2 linked regions of the Homo sapiens genome follow. The protein of the gene in region 1 purifies or fractionates together with the protein of each later gene. This does not show direct contact. Each region holds a gene or a part of one and is shown on either strand. Other genes may lie near its edges. The genes, in order: HLCS and TBC1D20.

Region 1 (5,635 bases):
AGACTTCCAAGAGTTACTGTCCACCCGGTGGTGTGGCCCCATAGCGAAGTCTAAATGCCTGTAGAGATAGAGCTAGCTGGTGTGGTTGCAGTGACCTTGTAGAGGAAATCAGTTCATTACTTTGACATCATTCAGTGAGCTCTCCTTTCCTAAGGAAGTTTAAATGTCCTTAGTTAGGGACTGACTTTCTTAAGTAAGTTTAAATTTACTACATATTGTGAAGAGACAGGATCAAGTTCAGAATCCTTAAATGTCTGATTAGGCATCACTTGGATGAGGAGGTGGGCGATTTGGCTCTGACAGCTGGAGATGAAGGCACACTCATACCACATACAAGGGAGGATTTGGAGCTTTTAAGCCAGTTTCAGATTTACTCTGAAATGTGGAGCATTCCTGCAAGACTGTGCAGCTCACGGAATATAGAAGACATGGCATTTTACTCAGAAGTCATAAGTTTTTGCCCCCCTCATTTACCTCGTATTACCAAGAAAGAAAATGTTATCGATACTAAACACCATCAGTTCAGAGGGAGGATGTGTGTGTGTGCCCGCATATGTGTGTGCGTGCGTGTGTGCGCACATAGCTTTAAAAGAAGACATTCAAAATTTGATGTGCTACAAGCCTCATGAAAGAACAAAAGAAATGAAGCCTTTTGATATGCATTCGCTATTCCCAGATGTACGCCATGCCTTTTCCATGTCCCTCCTATCTCTGTTGAACTTATGAATCATACTCATTACTTTTCAGCTTTTTAAAAGGCCAATTTTTGTCCAGTTTTCTCTCTTCCAGTCCCAGCTGAAATTAGTGGAAAGAAAGTTTGATGGAGCTTTCAGCTTTGAACAAAATCCCTTCATTGTAAACTAGCACCATCTTTATCCAGGTCTTACCCAGTCAGGCTAATTCCAGAAACTTGTGGTTTTTAGTATAGTCTGTCTACCTTTAGCCAGGCACAGGACAGCCCTATGAAAAAATACCCAATATATATTTTTTGGAAATGAAACATTAAAAGAACTTAAAAAGTAATTTTTGGAAATGAGGCTTCAATTAGAATTATTTTTCTCAAAAAACAAACAAACAAAAAACACAAAAAAAACCACTCTTCTCCAAATGCCCAAGCCTTCTTTCAAAATTAGTTAGAAACTTAAGTAAAATACAAGTCCACACCATCCCCAAATTACAAAATGGACTTACCCTTGAGAGGGCATCTGCAGAATATCATCAGGGACAAAGATCTCGAGGCTAACGATGTAGGTTTCATTTCTCAGACTTTGTAATATAAGGCAAGCCCTCTCTCAGAGCTGCCATCATCACTTTTTGAATTTCTTTGGGGGTTATTTAATGAAAAACATGCTATGTTTTGTTTTAAGCTGAAGTCCTATTCTGGACACTCTGCTTTGGGAAAAAATGTTATCATTTAATTTCCTTTCTGCAAATTAAAACTAATGAAGTGTGGCCTTGTCAAAGGCTATGGAGATGTTCCGGGCATACTGCTGTGCTCTGTGCTTTCCAGCAGGCGCTCCTCCCTCACGCAGGAGACTCAGTTGTCCTGAGAGAGATGAAGCAGCCTTGAAGCAGATGCTGCGTTTTCCATAAACCTGATTTTGCCTCACATGAACCAAAGACTCTCAAAACTCCGCTTCTATAGAATTAGCTGAATAAAGGCATTTTACTGATAGCTGTTCGTGTTAGCGAAACCTGTCTACCTGCTATAGCACACTCTCCGATTTGGGCCATTTATGCACCCCGCAACCTGGGATCTCAAGGAGCTTTAAAGTCTTAATGGGAACTTGGCATTTTCCTGATGATCTTTAAAATGTGGTCACTAAACTCAGGATTGGCGTGTGCTTTTAGAACACTGGAGTAGCCCTTGTTTTAGAGGCTGTGCATTGAGTATCGACCGTATTTTGTAAAAGGCAAGATATCCTCCCTTCCAGGCTGGTAACGGGTTTCAAGGGGACTCTTGAGGAAGTGCCCCCTAAAATAGAACACAGCAATAACTGGGCTTCCTGTCCCCACCCCCACCCCAGCAGTGCTCTCTGGCACTGGGAACTCTGCTAGGGAGTGGTGGAAGTAGGAAGGATTTGTGTGCAAAGGAAAATCGTGGTTGAGTTTCACTGCAGCAGGCTGACGTTGCCTGATGTGAGAGCAAGTGGCCGACTGGGGTGCGGGTGCACAGGTCGGGGGAGCACAGGCCACAGAGCGCAGCCTCTGGGGGTCCCCCAAGGCACAGCATATACAGCATGGTCGCCCCTTGCCCTGGAGTCTGGGAACAAAGAGAGGAGCCAGCCTCCCCGCACTGCTTCAGATGGAAAAGGGAGGCAGGGTGGGCTTCCGTTCTCCAGATCTGTTTGCTCTTAACAGGCAGAACATGGGAGAATCCTTATTCCTGGTTAATCACTATGCATATTTGAAATAAAAGAAAGCGTAAGCCTCTGCAATTTTAACTTCTCAAAGGATGTCTCTGAAAAGAATCACTTTAAACCAATGCCTATAAAAAGCAAGTCTACCAAAATAAACTAAGACTTTCTATGTGGTTTGGGCTCCCTCTTATTTTTACAAGTTTCATTTTTAAAAGTAGGCAACTACTTTGGGTTACAGTATTTTTATTCATATTTAAACATTTTTACAAAATAAATAAAGTGTTTTACATAGTAAGGAATATGTACGTATTTCCAAGTATTAAGAAGCCAAGTGTTTTTTTTTTTGACGTATTATTGACAAATGTATTCAGCGCCATACACAAGAGAAATATTATTACTCCAAAGAACGAAAGTTAACAAAACTCCAAAGCAAAAACCCTTTTAATGGAGGTGAGAAATAAATTTAATGTAACAACAGCTAGATTGTTTTTAGGATTTTTCTTTTCTTTTGTGGAAACTTCTTGACTTGACTTTTCATCTGAACAGTTTTTCCCCCCAAGATTTTAATCTTATATGTCATACTTAAGTTTAGGAACAGCTTGAATAATTAGCATTCTAGATAACACAAGGGCCATGATTCACTAAAATTCCAAGCTACTGTAATTTTATGGCATTTATTTGCAAATGTTCTTTGTATCTCATTTTATCTGTAGCAGTCCCCACTAGTCTACCTTAACCATCTTATAGCTCTGGTAAATTAAAACTTACGTAGACTTTATACAAGATCCATTGGCCGTATTAAACCTCCCCCACTCTTAGGGCTTAGGGCGGAAGGGACGAAGGCAGGGCTGATAGGACTTTTAAAAGGATAAAAGGAGTGGGGGCAAGGGAGGCGGAAAATACAGGCTCTTGCAGATACCCTCCGCGCTGCCCTCCACACCCAGCCCACTGCTCTACAAAGGTATGAATGGAATGGCTTTTCTAGAAAAGGGCTTCCAAGAACATAAAGGAATTCCTTTCCCTGGGAGGCCCCGTGGAGGGCTGAGCCAGCCTTGAATTGGGCTTATTTCTCAAATCCATTTGATCTGGCATTTTTGTCAACATGGTACATGTTAGGGCCTACGATGATTTTTTTTTCTTTTTTGTAAAAGAGAGGCATATGTATTAAAATGCTTCCTCTTCCCCTGCCGGAGCCTCACAGAAGTCAAGAAACGCTATCCCCAGCTTAAATGTGCAGACTCTTCAAGATGGAGGTCACAATATTAGGTTGCCACAGTAACAGCTCTGCTGACTTCACACTCAGCCCTGGCCGTCCTGAAGCCAGCTCGTGTAAGAATCTTCCTTCATGTTCTAGGTTATGAAAACGAAGTTTGTTTAGACAAGGACGTTTTCACTAGTACACATTTTCAAGTACATACACACTCTGTTACGCCTGTCCACGTTGTCACTTGTAAATCTATGATAGGGTCTTTTTTCTCAACAGTAACCTTTGTTATTGAACTGCTCCGATAGCCTTGATTTATTTTTACTAAATACAGCCCCAAAAGTTAATAACAAGGTAGACACAAAAGCATTTTGCAGTACTTTATTGAAAAATGTCGGTGGTATCTCCTAGTAATCAAACCTACACCTTTCAAGAATCACGGTTTAATTACAAGACTCATGAACATAAAAAAATAATACCCTCGGCTTATTTCCTGTGCACACACTCACAAGGAGCTGTGAATGAGGTATAGCTGAGTGCGTGGAGAGGCGGGCACATCCCTTCCTACCATCCAGCCCCTTCGCTGCATGACCCACGGTCCTAAATTTGCAAATTGTGACTCTTACCATGAGGCCCACTGACAGACACCCTGTAGGGATTGTGTCAGGTCCTCACTAAGTGACACAGGGTTGGCAAAAAAAAAAAAAAAAAAGTCAGTTCACATTTTGAGAGCAGTTGGTGTAGGTGCACTTGATTTTAGAACGATGAGTTTAAAACATTTGTGAAAACCTCTTTCCATTCAGAAAGGTGGAAAAAGTTTCCTAAAATAAACCATTTTGATAAAGCAGCAAAATGCTGCAGTGTTGATAGTGTGAAGAAAATTGAAGGACGGCGGTTCAATGCATTGTGCAGTTCAGAGCCATGACAGGATTTTTCCATGTTGAGATCTTTAAGCAAAACCCATAAAAAGTAAAAATTAATGGAAGCTCATTTTTTAAACACTGCTGGTGCTTTATGAAAGGATTTCTGTTTACCTGTTGCACACGTAACATGTTCTTACGAAGTTTTCTCGCTGTGTAGAAAATGCTTAAAATGTCTACATCATTTTCATTACACCCCCTTAAGCATGTTTTTCCTTCACAAGGTGCAGTCCATTGACAGTGTTCCGTATTGCACGTGCAATTTAACTTTATTAGCACTATTTGTAGCAAACACGAGCCTAGTGAATTACAGATCTGTGTGGGCCAGAGGGATTTTGCCACGTAATAATGAAGCTTGACAGGGTCATTCTCATAAACTGTCTGGCTACATATATATTTTTGCATTTAATGCCTATTCAATATATTCTGAAGGTGCTACTCTTGGTGTTATCAAGAGTTCATAGGGGTTAGGGGGAAGTAAGAGCTTGTTAATGTATTTGGGAAGCACACCTATGTTCACAGACACAAAATGGAATTGCATGGTCACCCCCTTAGTCTTGGTTTGTTGGCTTTTTGTATTGAAGAAAGGGTTAAATAAAAACAAAAATAATGAGACTCTTGAATGACTTTTAAAGACAGTGGAGTTGTGTATTCATGGGACTTACAATCATCACTTCTGCCTTCACCTAAGCATCTAAAAGGGCTCGTGACACAGGCGTCCCCTCCCAGGTCTGCCGTCCACTTGGAAGAGCGGACTGTGGTAGGGTGGGTTTTCCCTCCTGAAAGTGGAGGATATTTGCGGAGTGAAACCGCTTCAATCCCCCAGCGGGACTGTTGTGGAACGTTGGGGACAAGGCAAGACGCGTGAAGCCCGATTTCAAGGTGAGGAAACCAAGCCCCCAGCAACTGGGTCGCACCGGCCCTCGCAGGACAGAGGCGGGCGGTCACCTGCCCGGACCCGGGCGCTCCTCGGCCCTCGGCACCGGCGCGCGGGGCCTCCGCGGTGGAAATCCGCAAGTCGGCGGCGGGGTCCAATTCAAACAGCTGTCTCTGCATAAATTAATGTAGGTCGTGCGCATTTGCCGGGCTCGGTGGCGCCGCAGCCCCGGGAGGCCGGGTCCAGGCTCCTGGCGCGGGCGGCCAGCGGGTCA
Region 2 (7,091 bases), on another chromosome or scaffold:
GAGTTGTTAGGTGGTTCTTTATGTGAGTCTCAATATACCTTTCTAAACAGCTTAGTGCTCCCACAACTTTATAGGCGTTAGGGTTTTTTTCAGTGGTCTGTTGTTCCCACATTCATGATTTTATTTGATCCTTGGAATATCCTCATTTTGTAGCTGTGGACTTTGAAATTCAGAGCAGTTCCCAGTGATGCACAGTGGCCTTCTGCACGAGGCGCCTGGCCTCCTTACGTCTTTGCTCTCCTTCCCACCCTGCTGTATTGTCTCCTGGGCAGTCTGTGCTCCCTTCTCTTAGGGTCATTGTGACTTGCAGGAAACATAATGTTTGGAACCAAACTAGGGATTCCCTGCCAAATGTTGTATCTTGAGTCATATCATCCTCTTCAGGAGAAGCTGACATGTGCCCTCTAGGCCTTTTGTGTCATCCCAGAATGTTTTGCTTCTGGTCTGGCTTCTCAGGCATTCCTGCAATAACGTGCCTTTTCCTTCAATAGGGAAGAACCTACGGCAGATGAGCAAGGACTACCAACAAGTGTTGCTGGACGTCCGGCGGTCATTGCGGCGGTTCCCTCCTGGTGAGAAGCTCTCCCGGTCCTGCCACATTTGGAAAGACTGTATCTGTTCCAGGTCATACCATGTGACCTAATATGCTGGACCCTGCCGCCTCAGGGACCTTCAGAGCTCTCCTTTTGCTGAGTCATCCTTTTCTTGACTGGTCACTTTCAGACCCCCACTGTGAAAGCCTGAACCAAAAATAATTTCTCCTGGCCTAGAGGTGGTGAATGAGAGAAGAGGTTTTTGTTTTTCCTTGAAGCCACAAAAAGGAGTTAATAAGGATTGTTAGAGCCATCAGTCTGGCATTAAAGAGCAGATTGGTGTGGAATTGGGCACCAACAAGAATGAGTAATATCTTAATTAGGTTTAAAAACGATGGTACCTTGCGCATACATATGTAAGATTCCTTAGAGGGAAGAGAGGCCATTCCCTGTTTGTGTAAGAGTATATTCCTTAATTAACAAATTAAGCAGCAATAGATAAAAAAATAAATAAATAAAAACAAAACAAACAAACAAAAAAGAATGTATTCCTAAAATTACCTCTTTATTTCAGGAAGAAAGAAAAGAAGGACCGTTGTCTCAATTTTCACAGTGAAGGGAACTGGGCAACAAACCTCACATGGATGACCTATTTTTCTTCCTCTGGCAACTCCACCTTTAGGTCATGAAGAGAGGAGAATTGCTAAAGGGAACAGGAGCCTCTAAGCTGGCTGCCTCCCTCTTCTGCACTGTGCTCTGGCCTGGCTTTTGTTGTTGAAGGGGCTGCTTTCCTGCTGGCATTCTTGCTCCCTGGACAGATTCTTGCAATACCCAGGTAGCAGTAGCCTGCCAGCGTGGTTTTGATAAAAGCACATGCCCACGGTCCATTCCCTTTTCCTAGCCTGCTGGTTTGGATGAGATCATATAGGACAGATGCCTCCCTTTTTTTTTTTTTTTTAAAGACAGAGTTTCACTCTTGTTGCAGGCTGGAGTGCAATGGCACTGTCTCAGCTCACTACAACCTCCGCCTCCCAGGTTCAGGCAGTTCTCCTGCCTCAGCCTCCCAAGTAGCTGGGATTACAGGTGCCCGCCACCACGCCCAGCTAATTTTGTGTGTGTGTGTTTTTAATAGAGATGGGGTTTCACCATGTTGGCCAGGCTGCTCTCGAACTCCTGACCTCAGGTGATGCACGTACCTCAGCCTCCCAAAGTGCTGGGATTACAGGCAAGAGCCACCCCCATTTTTTCCTAGGTAACCTGTTTTCCCTCTGAACCCTTTATTCCTCTTCCATTGATGTAATATCTGTGATACGCTTTCTGTAGGCTGAACTTACAGTGTGGCTTCATATTCTTTTTCCATTCATGGTCTTCTGGGCTTGGCTCACTGCTTTTCTGCTGAAAATTCACACAGGGTTTAATTTTTACTCTCACTCCTTTCACTGCTTCACCTATCAGCAGCCCTGGGTTTGCTTCGTTTCCTTATTTATCTTTTAGGGTATGCTTTTTATTTGAGAAGGGGTGGGGTAAATATGGGCAAGAGGTGAGTTTTGCTCTTACCTGCAATCCTTTGTCCGGTTTAGTTTGGGCCCTTACATTAGCTGCTTTCTCTCTCTGAGTATGTGTTTGTAACTGAAAGCTAATGGTGTGGAGAAGCTGTGCATGTGCCATTCTTCTAACCTGGCTCATAAGGCCAAGGCATTTTTACTGCTGGCAGCACTAGCTCCAGCAGTAAAAGAACTCCCTGAAAGAACTCCTGAGACAGGCTTCCCTATTTCCAGCTATAATACATCTTTGGATCAAGAGGATCAGTTTTTCCTGTAACGTTTGCTTTGGTTTAAAGGGGACCGTGTAACTTTAAAATTTTTTTATTTTTATATAATTTCATACTTACTGAAAGGTTGTAAAAATAGGACAAAGAATTCCCCAGATACCTTTTACCCAGATTTCCTTTTGTTTTCACATTTTACTACATTTGCTTTTTTTTTCTTGGAGACGGAGTCTTGCTCTCTCGCCCGGGCTGCAGTGCAGTGGCACGATCTCAGCTCACTGCAAGCTCTGGTTCCTGGGTTCATGCCATTCTCCTGCCTCAGCCTCCCAAGTAGCTGGGACTACAGGCGCCTGCCACCACGCCCAGCTAATTTTTTGTATTTTTTATTAGAGACGGGGTTTTTCACCATATTAGCCAGGATGGTCTCGATCTCCTGACCTCGTGATCCACCTGCCTCTGCCTCCCAAAGTGCTGGGATTACAGGCGTGAGCCACCGCGCCTGGCCTACATTTGCTTTTTTAGCTGCTTTCTGTCTTTCCTTCGCTTTACACATAGACATACACTTTTTCTCTGAACTATTTAAGAGTAAGTTGCAAACATGACATCTTTTTACCCCAAGTGTTTCAGGACATATTTCCTAAATATAAGGCTCTCATGTAATCACAGTACACTGAGCAACATCAGTAACAACACTGAAAAATAGTTAACTAATTAATCCACAGATTTTATTCACATTTCACCATTTCTTCGAGTAATGTGCTTCACTGGAAAAGGAAATATAGATTTATGCGTTTCTCATGCTGTTGTCCTATATCTTTAGCCATTTTTAATCTGGAACAGTTCCTTTGTATTGTATGAGAGTTAAATTTCTCTTCCTTTGGGGATATTGGGTATTTCTTCATTGTGAGATTGAGGTCTGTGCGCTGTTGATAGAAATCCTGCAGACATGATGCTGAGCTCTGTCAGTGCATCACCTCGGGAGGCAGAGGCCGTCTGTGGCTCCCATAGTTGAAATTCTGCAGTTAAATACTGTGTCCCAGCAGTATTAACTGCAGCAACTTGGTTAGGGTGGCATCTGCAGCTTCCCCTACTGGAAAGCTAGCAGCTGCCTTTTCCTGTATGCCAGGTGGTATCAACAGTGGATCTTGATATGCGTTGCCAAATTATTTGTAATTCATTTTCCTTTTTTCTCTGAAAATTCATTGCTGGCCTTCTTCGACCTCCTTGTTAACTAGGCTGCTTGGTATGTTCAAAGGCATCTCTGTTCCTGTCCCCAGGCATGCCAGAGGAACAGAGAGAAGGGCTCCAGGAAGAACTGATTGACATCATCCTCCTCATCTTGGAGCGCAACCCTCAGCTGCACTACTACCAGGGCTACCATGACATTGTGGTCACATTTCTGCTGGTGGTAGGCGAGAGGCTGGCAACATCCCTGGTAGAAAAATTATCTACCCACCACCTCAGGTACCAGTAGAGAGGAACACAAGACGACGGGCATCACTCCTCAGCCGTCCTGGGGATAACTCACTGGCCTGTTTTCTGGTCAGCTTTTTTAGGAGTTTGAGCCCTCGCCACCCTGAGCCCTGATCTAAGTGTTTGGTAACCAGGCTTATTGAATTGTCTCCCTCCAGGGATTTTATGGATCCAACAATGGACAACACCAAGCATATATTAAACTATCTGATGCCCATCATTGACCAGGTGAATCCAGAGCTCCATGACTTCATGCAGAGGTACATATGTGTCTGCATTTCTGTGTGCATGCATACACACGCCCACACCCCCCCACACCTGAAACACTCCTCACAAGCCGAGCGCAGTTTCCTCATTGTCTTGGGTGGATTTGTTAAGTTCTCCCCAGTTGTTCCAGTCACCAGCAATCTGGGTAATTCAGTTCTTGGAGCATTTTTGGGGACTGTGCTCTTTGGGGGACATAGCCCATCCCTTGAGTTTACATCTAGTGGGGAGAGGTGGATAAGGTATGTATGCCAAGGTAAGATGTTGAGGTTATTGCCACAAGAGAAACACAAAGTCCTGTGGGATCCAGTGGCGAGAAGGGGAAGGCCAACAATGGGTTGTTTTATTTCCCAAGTACCAAAGAGAAGAAATATTTTTTTGCAAATCCCATGTGATGTTTTGTTTCTTCTCTGTTTAGTTGGAAATGTGTTCTTGGCCAATGCCTCTTTTTTTAAAATTTTTTAAAAGGTAATGGCTATGCCTTCTTTTTTTTTGAGATGGAGTATTTTCTCTTGTTGCCCAGGCTGGAGTGCAATGGCATGATCTTGGCTCACTGCAACCTCTATCTTCCGGGTTCAAGCGATTCTTCTGCCTCAGCCTCAAGTAGCTGGGATTACAGGCATGCGCCACCACGCTCGGCTAATTTTGTATTTTTAGTAGAGACAGGGTTTCTCCATGTTGGTCAGGCTGGTCTCGAGCTCCCGATGTCAGGTGATCCGCCCGCTTTGGCCTCCCAAAGTGCTGAGATTATAGGCGTGACTCACCGTGTCTGGCAGCTACATCTTAAGATATTTCAGTTGTCTCATGTTAACAGAAAAATTAATGCAGTCATGTTTTCAGGCTTGGGAATATGTACCTGTGCCCCCCAGAAGGGTAAGACTTAGTCAGAAGGAGAATCATGGCGTAGTTCTCTGAAAACAACTGCTTCTCGTTCCTGTAGTTGACATTTGTTGGCCAGTAGGCGAGCACCCAGTGAGATAAAGCAGCCAGGACCCTGTTGTGGTGTTAGTGTTGTGGTACACCTTAAAGACTTTGTATTAAATATTTTGTAAGGAGAAGATGCTGAATTCCTAGGTAACTGAATTTTCCAGAAATCTTATTCCTAAATGCTTCCTTCTCACCAGCGCTATAAGGCCCAGAGAGAGGGAAGGGATGGCCCACAGGACCTGACACCTGCCTTTCCTTTGTTTCTAGTGCTGAGGTAGGGACCATCTTTGCCCTCAGCTGGCTCATCACCTGGTTTGGGCATGTCCTGTCTGACTTCAGGCACGTCGTGCGGTTATATGACTTCTTCCTGGCCTGCCACCCACTGATGCCGATTTACTTTGCAGCCGTGGTAGGTACAGGCCACGAGCCAGCAGCTGGGTTCACCATCACCCATCCCACTGTGGTCATTTTCCCTGAAGGGAAACCTGGGGATTATGGAAAGATGCAAAAGACAGCACTTCCCAGGCTGGTGTCCCTGGACACCATTCTGTGCAGTATTAATGGGGGTGTCACACACAAAAAATAGTAAGTTGGGAAATGCTGGGTATAAACAAAATCAGATTTTTTTTGCTGCATGACACTTCTGAACCTTTAAAATGCTAATCTGCATTGTGAATTGTCAGGGTTCCTGTTGACATTGTCTGGAATATATGTTCAGCTGATGAACACAATTAGGGAAATAGTAGCGTAAGCTGTCAACTCCAGATTTAAGAAAAGAAGAGATCTGGTGTCATGACAGACAAGGGAGGCGGCTTGCGGTGGAGGGTAGGGGCTTCAGTTAGTAGAAGGGTCTTGAGGGATGGGGTGGAGATGGGAATTCAGGGAAGTCCTTCAATGACCACTGGTCCCTTGAGCATCTGTGGATTTGTGGACCAACAGTCAGAAGGAAGATGCTTAAAGGGAGCAAGACTGTTCTTTCTACTGTTTTGAACCATTTCTTCTATGCTGGAGCTCCAGGAATCTCCCAATAATTCTCCTACTTTCTCCTAAAAGAATCTCCTTCATTTCTTTCAAGACTTAAAGGGACACCTGAGCAGCCCAGCATGCCCGAAGGACTTAGATTGTAACTGGTCAGCCTTTCATGTCATGTGGTGGAAGTTTGCAGGAAGGGCCAGAGAGTAGGAGTAGCACTGAGCGTATATATGTTATTACTTCCTTGATGGATACAAGAGTTTGCTCAACATTTGGGCTGAGTCCTGTCTGTTACCAGTTTAAATTCATCTGCAAGGATAATGGAGTGCAGGTGGCCCAGGCCCTGTGTGTCTGGCCTCTGACTGCAAGGCTTTACTACCTCCCCACAGATTGTGTTGTATCGCGAGCAGGAAGTCCTGGACTGTGACTGTGACATGGCCTCGGTCCACCACCTGTTGTCCCAGATCCCTCAGGACTTGCCCTATGAGACACTGATCAGCAGAGCAGGAGACCTTTTTGTTCAGTTTCCCCCATCCGAACTTGCTCGGGAGGCCGCTGCCCAACAGCAAGCTGAGAGGTGAGCAAGGCTGGGACACTGGTTGAATGGGGGTGGCTGTAAATGAGCAGAAGCGAGGGAAGGTTTGTGTCTGGTGGGATAGGGTTGGGGCATGTTTCCAGAGATCTGAGCTTAGGCCAGTGGAATCCCCACTGTAGACATATGGGTCTTTATCATAAAGAGCTTTCCCAGCAATGAAAGGCTCTGCCCGCAGCCTATGTGGTGTAGTTTTGCTTTCCTCCTCCTCTTTCATACCACTTCCTTCCTTCCGTCTCTTTCCCCTGCAGGACGGCAGCCTCTACTTTCAAAGACTTTGAGCTGGCATCAGCCCAGCAGAGGCCTGATATGGTGCTGCGGCAGCGGTTTCGGGGACTTCTGCGGCCTGAAGATCGAACAAAAGATGTCCTGACCAAGCCAAGGACCAACCGCTTTGTGAAATTGGCAGTGATGGGGCTGACAGTGGCACTTGGAGCGGCTGCACTGGCTGTGGTGAAAAGTGCCCTGGAATGGGCCCCTAAGTTTCAGCTGCAGCTGTTTCCCTGAAAGCCAGAGAAGACCTTCCTCTTACATCACATTAAGGTCTCACCCTTCCATGGAA

What was found.
Region 2: the proteins of HLCS (region 1) and TBC1D20 purify together in Homo sapiens (affinity purification with mass spectrometry; 2 studies listed by BioGRID and IntAct, with this or other methods). This does not show direct contact.

The regions. Positions count from the first base shown.
Region 1 is NC_000021.9:36,748,090-36,753,724, reverse strand, and holds the end of HLCS (biotin--protein ligase), read left to right. Parts: 3' UTR 1-5,099; downstream 5,100-5,635. Other genes in the region: SIM2 (single-minded homolog 2 long isoform), read right to left, coding at 5,633-5,635. UniProt on the Homo sapiens protein: Biotin--protein ligase catalyzing the biotinylation of the 4 biotin-dependent carboxylases acetyl-CoA-carboxylase, pyruvate carboxylase, propionyl-CoA carboxylase, and methylcrotonyl-CoA carboxylase.
Region 2 is NC_000020.11:438,531-445,621, reverse strand, and holds part of TBC1D20 (TBC1 domain family member 20), read left to right. Parts: intron 1-491; coding exon 492-572; intron 573-3,578; coding exon 3,579-3,765; intron 3,766-3,932; coding exon 3,933-4,034; intron 4,035-5,232; coding exon 5,233-5,374; intron 5,375-6,326; coding exon 6,327-6,514; intron 6,515-6,780; coding exon 6,781-7,036; 3' UTR 7,037-7,091. UniProt on the Homo sapiens protein: GTPase-activating protein (GAP) specific for Rab1 and Rab2 small GTPase families for which it can accelerate the intrinsic GTP hydrolysis rate by more than five orders of magnitude. Also shows GAP activity for RAB18 GTPase.